2 separate regions of the Homo sapiens genome follow, and region 2 is linked to region 1. Evidence: fine-mapped expression QTL. A gene starts in region 1. The other region holds a variant in brackets. All regions are shown on one strand. Distances are between the middles of the regions. Region 1 holds the start of LRRC8C-DT (LRRC8C divergent transcript). Region 2 overlaps LRRC8B (leucine rich repeat containing 8 VRAC subunit B).

The links. PIP is the estimated chance that this variant, and not a neighbour inherited with it, causes the effect.
Region 2: its variant is fine-mapped to the expression of LRRC8C-DT in CD4 T cells (BLUEPRINT, PIP 0.95).

Annotation. Positions count from the first base shown.
Region 1 is chr1:89,628,599-89,636,938 of GRCh38, forward strand. LRRC8C-DT (LRRC8C divergent transcript) reads right to left here and starts at 4,296. Exons shown (of 3, transcript NR_033981.1): 1 at 4,059-4,296; 2 at 3,418-3,611. LRRC8C (leucine rich repeat containing 8 VRAC subunit C) reads left to right here and starts at 4,522. Exons shown (of 3, transcript NM_032270.5): 1 at 4,522-4,724. RefSeq lists a silencer at 4,324-4,983 and enhancers at 5,364-5,413, 5,444-5,493.
Region 2 is chr1:89,537,847-89,546,186 of GRCh38, forward strand. The region is part of intron 1 of LRRC8B (leucine rich repeat containing 8 VRAC subunit B); the gene reads left to right. LOC124904216 (a long non-coding RNA gene) reads right to left here. Exons shown (of 3, transcript XR_007066214.1): 3 at 8,285-8,340. Among named protein-coding and RNA genes, the nearest start is that of LRRC8B, 17 kb to the left of the region's middle. The variant C/T (reference allele first, on the strand shown) is at 3,593.

The DNA of each region.
Region 1 (8,340 bases):
AATATGATTGGACAAAAGGGGTATGATCCAGCAAGGGGAATGGGGAAATCCAGCAAGGCCTGTCTGTTCAGATTTCTTCTTGGCCTTTCGATATAACATTCCTTCCTCCCAGGTATGGGGTAGGACCCCCTGGAATGAGGGTCTTAATTTCTTTATGGCCAGCAGTTAGCAAGAAAGAGAAAGGGAAGGGAGGGAGAAGATTAGAGTAAAATGTTTAGGCTCTAAGGCTGGTTTTGGGGAAAAGGTTCTGGTTTATATGACCCACCTCAGGGAAGAAGGATTCCAGTTTCTATGGCTTGCTTCAAGGGAGAATAAGAGAGTGAGAGACAGGAGGGCAGGAGAAAGCTAGACAGAGACTTTGCTTCTGAGGCTGCTTTTTATTCCTTCATTTTGGGGTATCATTTTTAGCCCCAATAGACCACCATCTCCTCTGGTACAAATTCAACTGCCATTTTGGGATCAAGTCCACATTTGACATTACCTCTCAGGCAACTTTCTGGGCAAAAGAATTTTCTAGGGAAGGTTTTATTTTTCCCTGTCTAGCATTTTTAATGGCACAGAGTCAAGGATTTCAAAACTGTTGCTAAAGGTAGCATTTATCTTGCAGGTATTAATTCAGAAAGTGCTAATGGTTGCAACAGTCTAAACAACTGAAACTTAAAACAACAACGTTTTCTTTTAGCTCAGCCTCTTCCCACAAAGCTCAGAAATGGTATGGGGAGCAGATGTGCACAGGGTGGATAGAGAATGCAGCGTAAAATCCTGCTGGTGGTTTTGGTTTAGAATGTAGATTTTACTTGCACTCTTACCAGGTAGGATCAACTGAAATCAAATGCAAAACAAAACAAGAATAGCAGGTTGATCTGAAAGAACAATCCCAGCATTGACATCATCAAGGTTTAAGCAGATACATATACATAATACATAAATTTAGTATGAATTATTTATGAGCTAAAGGGTTCAGGTTTTAGAGCCTGTAGTATAATAAGAGTTATACTGAAAGTCAGAACCAATACAAGAAACTGAAACACTTAAAAACTCATTATTTCAATATTTAATATCAGGTCCTGTGCAGGGTATTGATAATGGACATAAAAGTGAATCAAGATACAGCCCTGCCCTGGAGAGGCTCCCAGACTCTGTAGTGAAGAGGCATGTAAAGAGACAAATGAGAGCATGCCATGGTAAGTGCTGTGGTCACACAAGGAAGGAAGAGTTATACTTGCCTAGAACCTGTGGAGGCTTCATAGAGAAGGTGACTTTTAAATTATGCCTTCAGGCCAGGCGTGGTGGCTCATGCCTATAATCCCAGCACTTTGGGAGGCCAAGGCGGGTGGATCACCTGAGGTCAGGAGTTTGAGACCAGCCTGGCCAACATGGTGAAAACCCATCTCTACTAAAAAAAATAAATAAATACAAAAATTAGCTGGGCGTGGTGGCGGGCACCTGTAATCCCAGCTAGTCAGGAGGATGAGGCAAGGAGAATTGCTTGAACCTGGAAGGCGGAAGTTGCAGTCAGCGAGATCACACAGCATGAGACTCTGTCTCAGAAAAAATTAATTAATTACGCCTTCAAGGAACAACTCAGCCCAGCCTGAGTTTTCTTACAGCTAACAACAAAACAACAATGTGACACAATTGCTGTTACCATACAACCCACTAGAGGGGTTACAGATATTCTAAGTCTCACCACAACCCTAAAAGGTAGTTATATTCCAATAGACTGATGAGGAAACTGAAGTTCATAGCTAGAGATACAAGATTTAAGCCCAGACCTATTTCATTCCAAATCCCTTACCATAGCCCTGCATAGCCCAGAAATATCTACTTCTGCTTCTATCACCAACCTGTACATGGTTAACTTGTAATTACACAGTCTTTAGTGTGAGAACTACTAACTCTGGAAGTCCAATTAGAATGTCAAAATTTAGCCTAAAGAATTGGGTATAAAGTGAAAGGTCAAGACAGAGTCTGTGCACCCAGTTCATCTAGCTCACAGTACCCTCTCCTTCCTGGAGATGTGCTGAACTTCAAGCACATTTGCTTCAAAATGGTTTATTCTGGTTTGTGTGTATGCATGATTCCCATGAACTATGAACACCCTGAAGTCGGAGAATAAGCCTTGTACTTCTTTAAGACCCTCACTCAAGTTGACTGATTGCTAATTCTACCAGTCCTTTACAGAGAGCTTGCTAAGTGTGGATGTTAATGTGAATTAGGTGGACTGAGGTAAGATCACTAGATTTAAGGTTTACATGCTACAAAATAAGAAGAGGTGAACTAACCAGTGTAGCATAGTTTTTAGACTAGTGGCTTTCAAGCATTAATGTGCATGTGAATCACCTGCCTACACGTGAAGAACTACCCAGTTGATCCAATTAGAAGGCAGACACAAGAGTAGCCAAAAGTATTGCAATAAAGCAACTTGGGGTGGACTCAACTTGCAGGGGATTCAGATCCCAGGTTTCCAAACCTTTTTGCTATTCCTGGTTCTTTTGCTTTCAGTGAAGAGTAGTTAAGTACAATAGTAGCTCTCATTTACTGACTACTTACAAAGTGATTGGCACTGTTCTTGGTGCTTTGAGCATATTAGCTAATTCTCACAGCACCCTGTAGTACTATACCTATAGGGATGATAAGGGGATGTGGGTGGTGGGGAGGGGGCAGATAAAAAGAACAGTAAATTTCCTAAGTTTAAACTGGAAGAATAGGGATTTCATCCTGGTTCACCTGAGTACAAAGTCTAAGGTTCAATGATTCCTTGACACTGGGTAGCAAGGGAGCATTTCAGGGATGCCTAAGCTTGTGGTCAGGTGCCAACGGTACAAAGATAGAAGTATATCAGAGAGCCCTTGCAGAATAAGGCCCTCCACAGGAGGGTTGTGACCTTGGTACTTGCCTCACTGTGTTTAAATTCAGGTAAGGTAAGAGAATTGAAGAGGTAAAGCTACCTTAGAGAGTATTGCTGCATCTACCCTGGTGACTTACAAGGTACTTGAATTTTTTTTTTTCTAGCAAACTGCTAAAGTTAGCCTTTGCCTTTTTCCCAGAGACTCTCTAGGAATTTTTCCCATCTGCTGACTAGGAGGTAAGCCCGGACCTAAATTTTTGTCTTGTTGTAGGTTAATTAAGACTGGTGTTAGATTCAGCTCCTAAGGCCTAAGAGAATTTAAGGTTGTCTTCTGGGAAGGACACCCAACAGCAGCATTGGAATTGGAAAAAAAGTGTAGGATTTTGCTGAGTGAGCAGGGGGAAAGCAATGTAAAGCCCAAGAGAATATCTTTTGAACAAACGTCCTTTTCATTTTGGTTTAGAAATAGAAACGTGGTAAAAGGAGGCGACTGTTTTCTGAAGGCTTGTAGCACGAAAACAGGCCAACTGGCCAGCAACTAGTTGTCTATCAGTTTCTCTACTCACATACATCTGCCTTTTCCAGACTGCCAGCGCGGAGCACTAGTTTGACTTTGGGTGCTCTTCAAATAGCTGGCATTGATAAGGCATTCCCAGAAGACTGTGTTACTTAGTAATCTTGTCGGTACATTTTTTCACTGGGCAGAGATTTTCCAAACAGAGAGCTGCCAGCTTTCAAGACGTCAGAGTGCTTTTTCATCCTGAAATTGGGTGGGAAAATGGGGAGAAGAAAAGCACGGTTCAGATCAATCAATGAGAGAGAACCCCTCCCTCCATACTCGTTAAACAACAGGTGGTTTTGCTGTGCACCGTCAACTCCTTTATGCGGGAGCTGTAGGCGGGGCATTCCAACTGAGTCTCCCTGGAATCTGCCCCTTAGCCCGTATTGCAGGGGCGGTGCAGTTGGGGATTCCGGCCTGAAAGGAGACTTGGTTGTCAAGGGGCTCAAGGGCTTCATGATCCAAGGATATTGGGTTTTGCTTTTCTCCTTCTCCATCTTCCTCATTCTATCCCACCGTCCCCTCCCCACCCTTCTCTTAGGAGGCCTTCGCTTCTCCTGTGGAGGGGTTATCTTCATCCTGACCCTGGCCTTCGGAGGAGTTCCCAGAAGGGCTATTTTTAGTGGTGGCTGCTCCCCTCTAACTTACCCAGGGGAGGAGCTGCGGTGGCTGAGCCGACGCTGCGCGCACAGCCGCCTGTGGTTTTCCGCGCATTGTGAGGGATGAGGGGTGGAGGTGGTATTAGACGCAGCCGAATCCTCCCTCAGAGTCCGCCAGGTGGGCGTCTCAGGGGTGGGAGTGGCCGCGTCGTGAAGCGGAGAGAGGATTTCTCTCCTGGTCCTGGAGAAGGCCCCCGGCGGCCGGCGGCATCCCTCGCTGGCGAGTCCCGGGAGCGAGGTGGTCTCTGCAGGGGAGGAAGTTCCCGGGCGGCGCGGCCTGCGTCACAGCGGGGCTGGCACCGCGGAGTCGACTCGGCGGGCGGTGGCGACCCCGGGGCCGGGCGCTGGGCGGCGCTGGCTGCCGCTAGCCGGGCTGCGTGCGGGGCGGCGCTGGAGGCGGCTCCGTCCGCGGCCGGGGAGGCGGAGGGGAGGAGGGCTTGCGGGGCTGGGGCGTTAGCTGCGTCCCGGCTGGAAGCCCGCGAAGAGAAGTAGGAGGAAGGCGCCGCCGTGGCCGCGGCCGCAGTGCTCGGGCGCGACAAGCCATGAGCAGCGACCCCGCGGGCGACGCCGCCGTCCCTGGCAGCCGCTGAGCCCGACCCCCAGGCAGCTCGCCGCTCCCTAGCACCTTCTCCAGTCGACACTCTCGCGCCCGGAGGTAAGGGCGGGGGATCCGCGGAGGGATGGAGAGGGGCAGCCCGCAGAGGGCCACCCGCTCGGTCCGCTGTGCGCGCCGGACCGGGACTCGCCCCGCCTCACTCGCGTCCTTGCTTCCCCCCGGCTCTCAGACAGGCAGAATGTGGTTGCCCGCCCGGCGTGTGGTGCTGGGAACCTTCCGCTACTGCGGCTCAGGAGCCCGCCAACCCCTACCCCACCCAATCCGCGCTAGCCCGAGCGGCCGCGCGAGGATCTCAGCCTGGCGCCCAACGCCGCGCCGCAGCGGCAGGTCCTGCAGACTGGGCGCGGGGGTGGGGGGGCGGTCCGCGAGGGGAAATGCGTCCGTGGCCGGGGCGATCGTTGTTCTTTCCTACCTCGAAAATCTCTGAGACCCCGGGGCCAGTCCTTTCCGGTCTATCACCCCCCTGCCACCTCCGAACCCTTGAAGTTAGCACTTTTGGGCAGGGAAAGGAATTGGAAGGTTTCTCGAAGAAACGTGAGAGCACCGTGTGCTCACCTGCAGGACAGGAGGGAAGGGGTTCAGCTTGATCGGGCGGGCCCCAGAAGCCAGGTGTTTAGGCCAGCGGTTGAGGCCAAAACCGCTGCCTTCATCCCACGCCTAGGCTCGCTGATCTTTCCCTTTCCAGCTGGTTCCCACCAATGAGATGATTAGGGATGGAGTTAGCAACTCAGGAGCCTTAGATGTGTTCTGTGGACACGAATGCCTTTCTTTTCTCCCTCAGCCGGTTCTTCCCTCCCCAACCCCCACGCCTGCCCGGTATACAGCAAAGTCCAAACAGTTTCTTCCAAACCTCGCATCCTCCGTAGTTTTGCAACAGCCGGACACCTAGCCCGCATCCTAATGCGGATATTTCAGAGTATTACGGCTAAACTTCCCTTGGTTTCAAATTCCTTAAACATGTTAAAGCCTCAGCAAACGTTAGGAAACATTTTCAGGTTCCCATCCTCAAAGTAAAAAATAAGAACCAATCCATCTTTGTTGGAGTGCCGGTGTTTGGCACGGGGAGGCTTGAATTACCTCCATTTAAAGCAGCCTTTGAAGGAAGGAATAGGTAAAGGAAATCGCAGCCGTTTGTAAGTCACATACTTCTTTCGCGGTAGTGTGAGAAACGTAGCCTTAACCAACAGTCACATTTCCCGACAGGTATGTGATGGTTTCCCAAAGCATCGATGAGGCTTCAGCGTGGGCAGGTCATTAAGATGCCATTTAGACGAAAAAGGAGTAAAAGTGGAGTAGTCCTCTTGGTTAGCACAATGCTGCAAAATCGCCAGAGCCAATAATTTTTATACATTTATAAATTCTGTTTATTTTTAAATAATTTGTTGAAAACCCAAAACGTAATCTGAGCTGCATAAAACTCGCTCAATTCATAAACAATGTGTTGAGTGTGTAAACAAACATTAAATGTATACAGCTCTAGTCTAGGATATTTGCATTTCTTGTGACTTGCTTTAACAGGGAAGGCCAAGGCTATAATTGGTTTGCTTTACTCTGGAGTGATTAAGTTCTGTCTTGGGGTCAGTTTGTTTCCTTTGAGGGGGATGTAGGGCAGTTTTGCAAAGATGGATATTTGCCATGGTTCACATAATAGATTGGGCACAGACAGGACCCATCAACCCAACAATTGTATCAGAGATACCAAGTATATTTAACAATTTTCTTATTAATAAAATCAAGCCTTTATTAATAGTACTAATCTATTATTTCTCAGATTAAGCACTTTAATGAAATGTATTTTTAAAAGGGAATGCTTTTAGTGAAAATAATGCATTAGGAGCTGTAAGATAAATGAATGAAAATGTTGCACTTTATTTCCATGAAGTTTATCTTTTAAAAAACAATACAAAGTTAGAAATATGTTTAACTCCCAAGTGTTCAATTTTTACCAAATTGTTATGATTTTTAATACTCTATAGTATTATTAAGTTATAGTCACCTATGACATTATAATAGAGCGAGCCTAAGTTTAAAATGAAATGAGGTGGAAACTATATTTATTTTGCCAAGAATTGTGTTAATGATTTAATATGGTACATTGCTATAACATAATCTAGCTGCATGCTAGATACCTAATACACATTATCTCAGGTTCTTACAATGAACCCCTAAGGTAAATGGTGCCATCCACATTTTACATAAGAAGGAAGTTCAGAGTTTCTGATTTGGCTGAAGACTATGCAGCTAAGTTAGTGCCTGAATGAAGCCAAGCCTCCTTAGTCTTAATGATATACTTTTTTTTATTATCCAAAGCTGCTTATTTATTTTTTCTATATAAATTTGTTGTTAACTCACCATAGTGACTATATGAGGAAACAGAGATTGTAAAGTTTTCTGCCCAGCGTTTTCCATATAACAGAATTCCAATTTTGAATCAAGGCCATCTGTTTCTAAAACCCATGTTCTTGCCACTGATTTCTCTTAAATGACTGATCCAGAGCTTAACCTTATGGACAATTTACTCCTGCCCATCAGCTATTATCACTGACATGACAATGATGGTCTCATGGGCTGTAACACACTCCCAAGATTTTATACTTCATTTCTGGAGTGTTGACTGTATCTCCAGTTTCAGATCACTCATAAAAGCATATTACAACTAATGAGGGTTACATAACCATGGAGGTATCCTTGAATCTACTTGATTCCTTTTGAACTATAAATCATTCTGGTTTGGCATGGGGTAAAGAGAATGGCCTCCAGAAAAAGCTGCTGTCAAATTCGGACTCTGCCGTGCAGTAGGAGTGCAAATGAGGTCAGATTATTCAACTTCTTTGAACCCTGGTTTCCTCTTGTATAATGGGATTAATAAAGCCTCCCTAGCTGGATCACTGTGCAGATTACTTGTAATAGTGCATGTAAAGGACAGCTCTTGTCACCTAGTAGGTGCTCAGTAAGGATTAACACCAGTGTATCCTAGCACTGGTAGAAACTTCTGCTGTATTTCACTTTATGTATATTTTACATGCACGTAGTGATTAGTCATTGCTATCAGTGATTCACTCTTTATGTAATTATACAAAGGTCTAATCTGATTCTTAGCATCTTTAACTTTTGAATCACATCCTTTTTTGTTGTCTTGAGTCAGAAACATGTACTCATTCTATAGTTTTTCCTTTGCTCTTACTCTTTTATTTTATTTTTACTTTACTAACAATATGTTGATGGATCGGAATTTGTATTTTTTGGCAAACATACTTTCCTTTTTTCTGCCTCTCCTGATCTCTTAGCCTTGTATATCACTCAGGGTACCATGACAATGCCAGTCTCTCCCCACCACACACCTCACCCTTGACCAAGCCTCCACCAGCTGAAATTCTGCATCTCCTACAAGGCTCAGCATAAAAGCTACCTCCTTCATGAGCCTGCCTGTTTCCCTCCAGATCCTTGTCAGTTCACTTATAATTCAGACAACACGTACCCCTCCAAAAGTGCTGAGATTACAGGCATGAGGCACAGCACCCGGCCCACTCCTAATGCTATTTTAAAATTTTTTTAAAATTCTTATTTTTCCAGGTAATATATTTGAAAGACTATAAACTCTTTGACGTCAGGGATTTTTAAAAAATTTCTTTATATTTTTGCTTGGGATAATACA
Region 2 (8,340 bases), 91 kb before region 1:
GGTACCATCTATAAGGAACTGGACCTCACTGGTCACCAAGTCTGCTGACATCTTGTGATCTCAGAATTCCTAACTTCTGGAACTGTGAGAAATAAATGTTTGTTGTTTATTAGCCACCCTAGTTCATGGTATTTTGTTATAGGAGCCTGAATGGATTAAGACATGCATCATTTTTATTTACACAGAGTAAAACCTCCCCAAGTATGTGGCTGGTAGGGCTCCTTGTCCTGTTTACTCTGAAAGAAACTTCACTCTGAAAGAGCATGGTTAGAACATACCACTCTTTTGGACCCAGGCATGGTGGCTGGAGCCTGTAATCCCAGCTACTCAGGAGACCAGTATCACAAGATAAAGAACATTTCAGGTATTCCAAATGTCCTAGAAAATTATGAGCAAGGAGAACTCTGGCTGGTGGCAGGAGAGAAAAAAAGCAAAATAAGAAACAGAGGTCTTGAAGTGGGAAGATTTCTCTTTCCTTATAGATGAAATTTTGGCATGGCAAAGAACAGTTAGGAACTGATAGTGCCTTTGAAGGTCTGAACCAGTAGACAGGAGAGAATGTTCCTCTTTCTTTCATAGAAGCAGTGACTCCCTTAGAGTGAAGTGACTGTCATCCCCCACCCCAACCCCAGTGATTTCCTTTGGGGACATTTTATACAGAGACTTGGAAGATAAACTTGTCACTTTTAGGGAAATACTCATTGTAGTAAGTTATCTTCCCAACCACACTTCCTTAACGGATGTGTCAACTTTTAGTACTACAAAGTAACTAAATATTTTAAGTAGCAGTCATCCACACTGCAGCATGAGTATGTCATTTCCAAAACTAGATGCTGTTTAAAGGTTTAAATTAGCATCTTCGAGGTTTTTTTTTGTTTGTTTGTTTGTTTTTTAGACAGAGCCTCACTTTGTTGCCCAAGCTGGAATGCAGTGACATGATCTCAGCTCACTGCAACCTCCACCTACCGGGTTCAAGCGATTCCCCTACCTCAGCCTCCCAAGTAGCTGGGACTACAGGCACCCACCACCACACCCGGCTAATTTACGTATTTTTTAATAGAGATGGGGTTTCGCCATGTTGGCCAGGCTGGTCTCAAACTCCTGACCTCAGGTGATCCACCCATCTTGGCCTCCCAAAGTGCTGGGATTACAGGTGTGAGCCACCGCACCCAGCCCCTTCAAGGTTTTTAATACATCTGGCTTTAAAATCTCAGAAGCCTAGCAAGACTACCTCCTAGAAACATTGATATTTATTGACATTTTAGGGTATTTTCTATTGTTGCTCTCTTAAAGGCAAAGAAAACCTATTTTTCTAGTTAGAATTACCCCTTAATGCATTGACAACTCTGAAAGAAGAAATTCTAGCCTTTTCTTTCCTAATCAGTGAAAGGCCCTTTCCCCCATATTGCCCTCTCCGCCCCCCATATTTGGGTATTTCTAGCCTACTTTTTCATCTGTATGCCCTGTTACTATGGTGACAGGCACCATAGAAATAGAGAACAAAGCAGATGTAATAAGCATCTCCTACATGGTTTACAATGCTAAAAAGAGATCTAGGATTTTCAGGCGTTGCTTTTTCTTCACTGATGATAGAACTGGACCAGCCCAACATTGTGGGGGTATAGGGACTGGGGTTATGGGCTGATTTGGACCCTACAATTCCCATCGTCTTTTACTTTATCAGTCCTTATTCTACCCAGGAGTCATGAAGGTGAAGAAAGACTAATGGGAGTCTGCATGGAAAGTGTAATATAGAAATTAGGGCCACAGAAACAACACATTGCAAAGGACAGATACTTCTGCTGAAGCATATTCCATTGGAGGGAATCAAGCCAGCTGTAATGTTCACCAGTCATTGATCCTTTTGCTTGATTTTGCATTGTTCAACTTAACCTTTCAATAGAAAGATTTATCAGCTAGGTTTCTCCCACTTCAAGGTACTTAGCCTATGTTAGATTTTTTTTAAATTAAATAAAAATAAATCTGGATTACTAATAACTTGCAATATTTGCTCCTGGCCATTGGGGCCATTGAACTTTTAAAAATAAGTAGTTGAACAGCTAATGCATGCTTATTTTGTGCTTGTTTTAGAATTATAATTAAATATTCAGCAGATATTGTGAAAGTTAGCTTTCCATAAGATCCAGGAGAAATTTTCCATAAATTGTTTTTAACCTTCTACATGCATGTCTATTATTTTATTTATTACATCTTCACGTATCATTTCTGGATATCTTTAATCAATTACCTAAGATTAAATAAAGTGTTCCAGCTACTCAATTCCATCACCTGGACAATTATTTTTAAGTTTATTATTTTTTAAGTTTTATGTTGCTTATATTTTTATGTTTAGGGACCTGTATAGTTTTAAAATAATACTATGTTTAGAATATAAGTTGTGATACATGAATCAAATATTTGGAGCTATAGAAGCTGAATGATCCATGTGTCCATTACATTGTAGTATGAGGGCCTGAAACTCCTTCTACCTCTAAATTCTTGTTTCTTTGCCTATGTGGCTCTTTTCTTTTTACTTGACGAGCAAAAGAAGTATACTTTGCCAATTTTGTTATCTGTTGTAATGGCCCTAACAGTGATGTGAAAATATGTCTGAATCAACCCCACGCTTTGAGTTTTAAAAAACCCACACAGTGTAACCTTCCCCAGTCATGTCAGCTTTTCCCCTTTGTGACACGAATGAAAGAACAAGAGCATTGGAGTGGGAGTTGGAACAGCCAGTGCTGACCGTGGCACAGCCTCTGCCAGGGGTGAGCTTGGAGATACATTTATATCTCTATACAAAGCATACAGCTTCCTCAGGAAGAGCCCAGGAGCCCCAAGGAAGGTTTTGAGAGATTATATCAGATTAGTTTTGGGAAGTAACACTGGCAACTGTGTGGAGGGTGTGCTGAAGATGAGAGAGATCATATTGCGAGACCAAGTAGGGCAGTGGGATGAAGTAGAGGAGACTAGTAGAAAAGTTAGTTTAGAAAAAAGTCATAGGATTAAATATTCTATTTCCTTTTATCAGAAGATCCTATGGTAATTACTTAAGTCAAACTGTGATTACTGACATTTTACTAGTTTTACTATAGCTTCTAACTTTTTCAGAGAAGGAGTGGATTAAGTTTTGAACCAGATGATTTGGGGTCAAATTGTCAAATTTCAGGTTACCAGTGAGTGTGCTTTATATTAGCACAACTTTTTAAATTATAGCTTCTAAACATTTATGTCTTCTGACTGGAAATGGGAAAAGATTTGGGGGAAGTACTATTTGTTCTATGGAAGAATAATGACACTTTGCACAGGAGAGGTTTGCTGAAACCAGGTAATCCCTCCAGGCAGCTTAGCTCATTGTCTTCCAGAAAGCTAAAAAATTATGGGCTCATTGGGTAAGGTTTCTTGGCCTAGAGAGAATAGAGGTTGTATTTGTGAGGAGCTTATTCTTTCATGGATTGCTGTTCTCTAAAACCTCCTGGGCAGAGAGAGTTCCCATCACTTTTGATGTTGTCATCACTGTGAACATAGAAAGTAGACCAGGTAGAGTTATTTCTATTTTTATCAATTAAAAAGCTGGCTTTCTGGCCGGGCG[C/T]GGTGGCTCACGCCTGTAATCCCAGCACTTTGGGAGGCCGAGGCGGGCGGATCACGAGGTCAGGAGATCGAGACCATCCCGGCTAAAACGGTGAAACCCCGTCTCTACTAAAAATACAAAACATTAGCCGGGCGTAGTGGCGGGCGCCTGTAGTCCCAGCTACTTGGGAGGCTGAGGCAGGAGAATGGCGTGAACCCGGGAGGCGGAGCTTGCAGTGAGCCGAGATCCCGCCACTGCACTCCAGCCTGGGCGACAGAGGGAGACTCCGTCTCAAAAAAAAAAAAAAAAAAAAAAAAAAAAAAAAAAAAAAAGCTGGCTGTCTGAGAGACTCCATAACTTGGCTAAAGTTAAGGCAGATGGTAGGCAGGATAAGAGTTCAGTCTCCTCCATCTTTTTGCTGACTTCTACTCTACCACATGCCTGAAGTAGCCACCTTCACACATTCTTCAGAACAGAAAGCATTGACTATACCAAGAATGAAATTTTCCTGATAATTTTAGTAACTGTTCTCTTGATATAATGTACAAATTATATTATTTAAATGACTAATTCACAGATTAAAATTTTTTAATGTAATATATGGCTTTTACCTTTAAAAGTTGTAAAATCCTGGGAGCATTTGAAACTTGAACACAAACCCAAGGCTACTCTCGTGTACCAAAAATATGGAACTAGACAGAGACCTCCTGGCCTTGAACATGTCTTGCTTTCATGACATCTTGGTTATTATTTATTTCTGCACCTACCTTTAGCTAAGGGACTAGAGAAGAGTGTCATCTGCTAGGGCAAGCTTTTGAGCTCTCTGGCTCAGTTCTCACAGTGGCTCAGTCTCCTATGAGTTTCAGAGTCTTCAAGGTGGTTCCTCTACCTGCCCCACAGCATCTGAAGCACTTACTGTGATTATAATAAAATAACTGAGGATTTGTTTAATCTTTGTCTCTGTCACCAGACTATAAATTCCATGAGGTAGAGATAGCACCTGTTTGAGGACATCATGGGTTTTGTTTATTTTGTTGCTTCTCCAGGGCCATTTACCACATAACAGCCACTAAATATTTACTGAATGACTGAGTGAATGAATGAATGAATGAATGAATCCATGTTTAGCCTGTTGTTCATTCCATGGAGCTAAGCTACTTTTTATTTTTCTCAGAGATCTCTTTGAAGAATATTCATATTGATGCTCGTTTTACTATTATGAATTTACTATTTGTGCATGTTTAGATAAGTCACATAACTGTCTCAGTTGCCAATCTGTAGTGGAGAAAATCTCATGGGGTTGTTGAGAGTTTTAAATAATTTATATAAGCACTTATAAAAATACTTAACATAAAGTTATCTCATCATGAGTATTGGCATCCATTATGGTTATAATATACAAGCATATTCAACTACTTCAACCTCACATCAGCTACTTGTTAGGGCCTATGTGTCCTCACACTAGACTTGTTTTGTCTTATGTACTGGGGGGACCTATTAAGGCAAGCTCCACCTGATTTATCTTTTGTAAGTTGTCAGTTCAGTTAACTAGACTTAAATTTACTTTTTCCTGGTAATTTTTAAAGTAGGGTCAAATTACTTAATGATGAAAAATTAGACTTGCATAGTTGTTGATCTAATAAAAGCACTATTGACAAAATAGAAAAAATTATAGCTGTCTCAGGACCAGATCACAAAAGCCCCTAAATTTTCGTTATAGCCTGAAACTTGTTCAATCTTCACATTTTCTGAAATTCAGCCTTATTCAGTAAATAGACAAGTAAAAGAAAACTATGGCCCTTCACATTTTTAATGTATATTTTGAGACATGTAGACTATAACCTTGAAAAGTCTTTTATGCTAATTGGTCATCATGGGTAACAATACTCAAAGTATTCAAAGTAACATAAGTCTAAGGTATAAATTCATATTTCATTTGTTAGGAGTCTAAAACTTCTTTGATTCTTTTTCTGTTGTGCATGAAGGTAACAAACGCCAGTGAGTGGTAGTTTTCTTATTATAAAACAATCTATTATACAAGAAAAAATTTATTCTAATATTATCTAAGTTTTGAAAAACTGATTTTTTTTTTTTTTAAGTTGGAGTCTTGCTCTGTCACCTGGGCTGGAGTGCAGTGGCACAATCTCAGCTCACTGCAACCTCTGCCTCCCGGGTTCAAGTGATTCTCCTGCCTCAGCCTCCTGAGTAGCTGGGAGTACAGGCACATGCCAGCAGCCCTGGCTAATTTTTTTTTTTTTAGTAGAGATGAGATTTTGCCACATTGGTCAGGCTGGTCTCAAACTCCTGACCTCAGATGATCCACCCACCTTGGCCTCCCAAAGTGCTGGGATTACAGACATGAGCCACCATCCCTGGCCATTTTTTTTTGAGTTGGGGTCTTGCTCTGTTGCCCAGGCTGGAGTCCAGTGGCACTGTCATGGCTCACTCCAGCCCCGATCTCCCAGGCTCAGGCTATCCTCCTGCCTCAGCTTCCTGAGTAGCTGGGACCACAGTTGCATGCCACCAAGCCTGGCTAATTTTTATTATTATTAATTATTTGTAGAGATGAAGTCTTGCTATGTTGCCCAGGCTGGTTTTGAACTCTTGGACTCAAGTGATTCTCCCTCCTTGGCCTCCCAAAGTGCTGAGATTACCATCATAAGCCACTGCGCCCAGATGATTTTTAAAATCTCTATAAATGTCTGTTTATGCAGAACAAGGTGTAAGAATACATAGTTATTTGGTGTGTGCAGTAGGGTTTCATGAGAAGGGAAGGGAAATGAAGGAAGCTATTGTTCAGTAGTTTACACTTTTGATTCTTATTGTTTTCCTCTCTAGTAACATCCCAGAGATGTTACACATGGTAAAGTCGTAGTAAAAAAAAATTATTTCTAAACAAAATGTTTCTTTCCCTAATGAGATTCTGGTTTGGGTGCTTTATTGTCAGTGTGCTGGGAATTTTGGAATGTTCTCTGTGTATTTCTATGATTTTGACCTAATAATCTCATTTGGATTTACCAGGCTCAGCAGCTGTTGTTTTTATCGACTATTGCTAAGTCATATTAATGTCCAAAGTTGAAAAATCCTTTTCCTATGTTGGCCTAGATTATTCAGAGTTTTACAAAATTTAAGCCTTTTCTCCAATGCCTGTAATTTTTATTTGCTTGTAAGAAACCTTATAATAATAATAATATCCCAGTGGGTACTTTAGATGGGCTAAGCCTATTTGCAGATCTCTCGCAGGATGGTAGTGAAGTTTGCAGGATGGTTTGTAGAACAGTGCTTTCTTGATAAATCCATCTATCCTCTTTTCTACTGGAGGAAGAAAAAACCTCAATTATATTGACTTTAAGTACTGTTTGATGTAACATGATAGATCTTTGCAGTTTGATATGAATGATTTTCCTTTGGAAAAGCAGAATGCAAAACTGAGAAGTCAAAGACATTGAGAATGTCCTAGGAGAGCATAAACTCAAAATTATAACCATTTTATTGGATACAATTGGAAAGTTTTATTTGAAGAGGAAATCAGATGTTGAATTTTGCCTTTTAATTCAATTTTTAACGTAATAGGAAGTTTTCTTACATAGTTGAAAACATATATTGCTTTCTTTGTAATTTCTAATTTGTTTAATTATAAGGCAGTGGTTTTGAGGTCTAAAAAAGATACTAGGTATGCTGTTACATTCCTCCCAGGGTGAGTTTTCTTGATTCTTAATCCCATCTGATCTCTGCACTATCACATTCCCTTTTTTCCTGTTGGGAGTTTAAATTTATTCTCCTTATACATTTAGGATTCAAACCAATAGCTCTTCTTGTTGTCTAGTGATATGGTCAATGATTTCTGCATTTACAGGTAAAGATGAGCATCAACAGTGTACTTTATCAGTTATAAAATCATCTTTACATAATAATCACATTTGATTCCGACAATTTAGAGAGGGAGAGAGGAAGAATGACTGAAATTAATTCCTATTCCTCAGAGAAGTTACACAATATACCCAAAATAGCATGTAAACAGAAGGGCAGGACAAGAACCAGGCCTTTTAGCTCTGTGTCCAGTCTTCTTTCCACCCTGTCATACTGTGTCTGCATGCCCTGTCCAAGGCATTTACCAAGACATTTCCCACATACAGAATTTGGTTAATATGCTGAATAAAATTGTTGTGTCAAATTTTAATAAACTCTATAAAACCAATTGGATATCCTTTGGTTCTTTCCCTGTTAAACGTGAATTCTTGCACTATATGTATGGTGAGAGAGGTTTCCTGCTTTCAAGGCCAATGACAGTGAGTGTTCAACTTAAGAGTTAAGAACAAGAAGACAACAATAAGACAGATGTCCCAAGAAGGCATATGACTCACAAGTTCAGTGGAAACATCGTAGGAGGTGAGGCTTGCAGGATGTGATAAGATATGGAAAGTTGAAGAAGGGGGTGGACGGGAAATGTTTGAGCAGAGGTGTATAGGAAAGAATGTATGCAGTACTGAAATCATTGCGGATGAAACGATACATCCAGGATTTGCTTCAAGACACCTGGCATGGGTGTGATATGAATTGATCATTGTTGGAGCTGGGTAAATGGTATATGGGGGACCCTTATAATATTATTCATACTTCTATATACATTAGAAAATTTCCATAGTAAGAATTTTTTTTAATAAAAATGGTATATTATGTGTTTTTTGAACAATAGGTTAGGCTAGCCTATCAGAATAGAGAGCATGTTCAAAGGCATAGTAGGAAGGGTTGGAAAAGCGGCCTGGTAC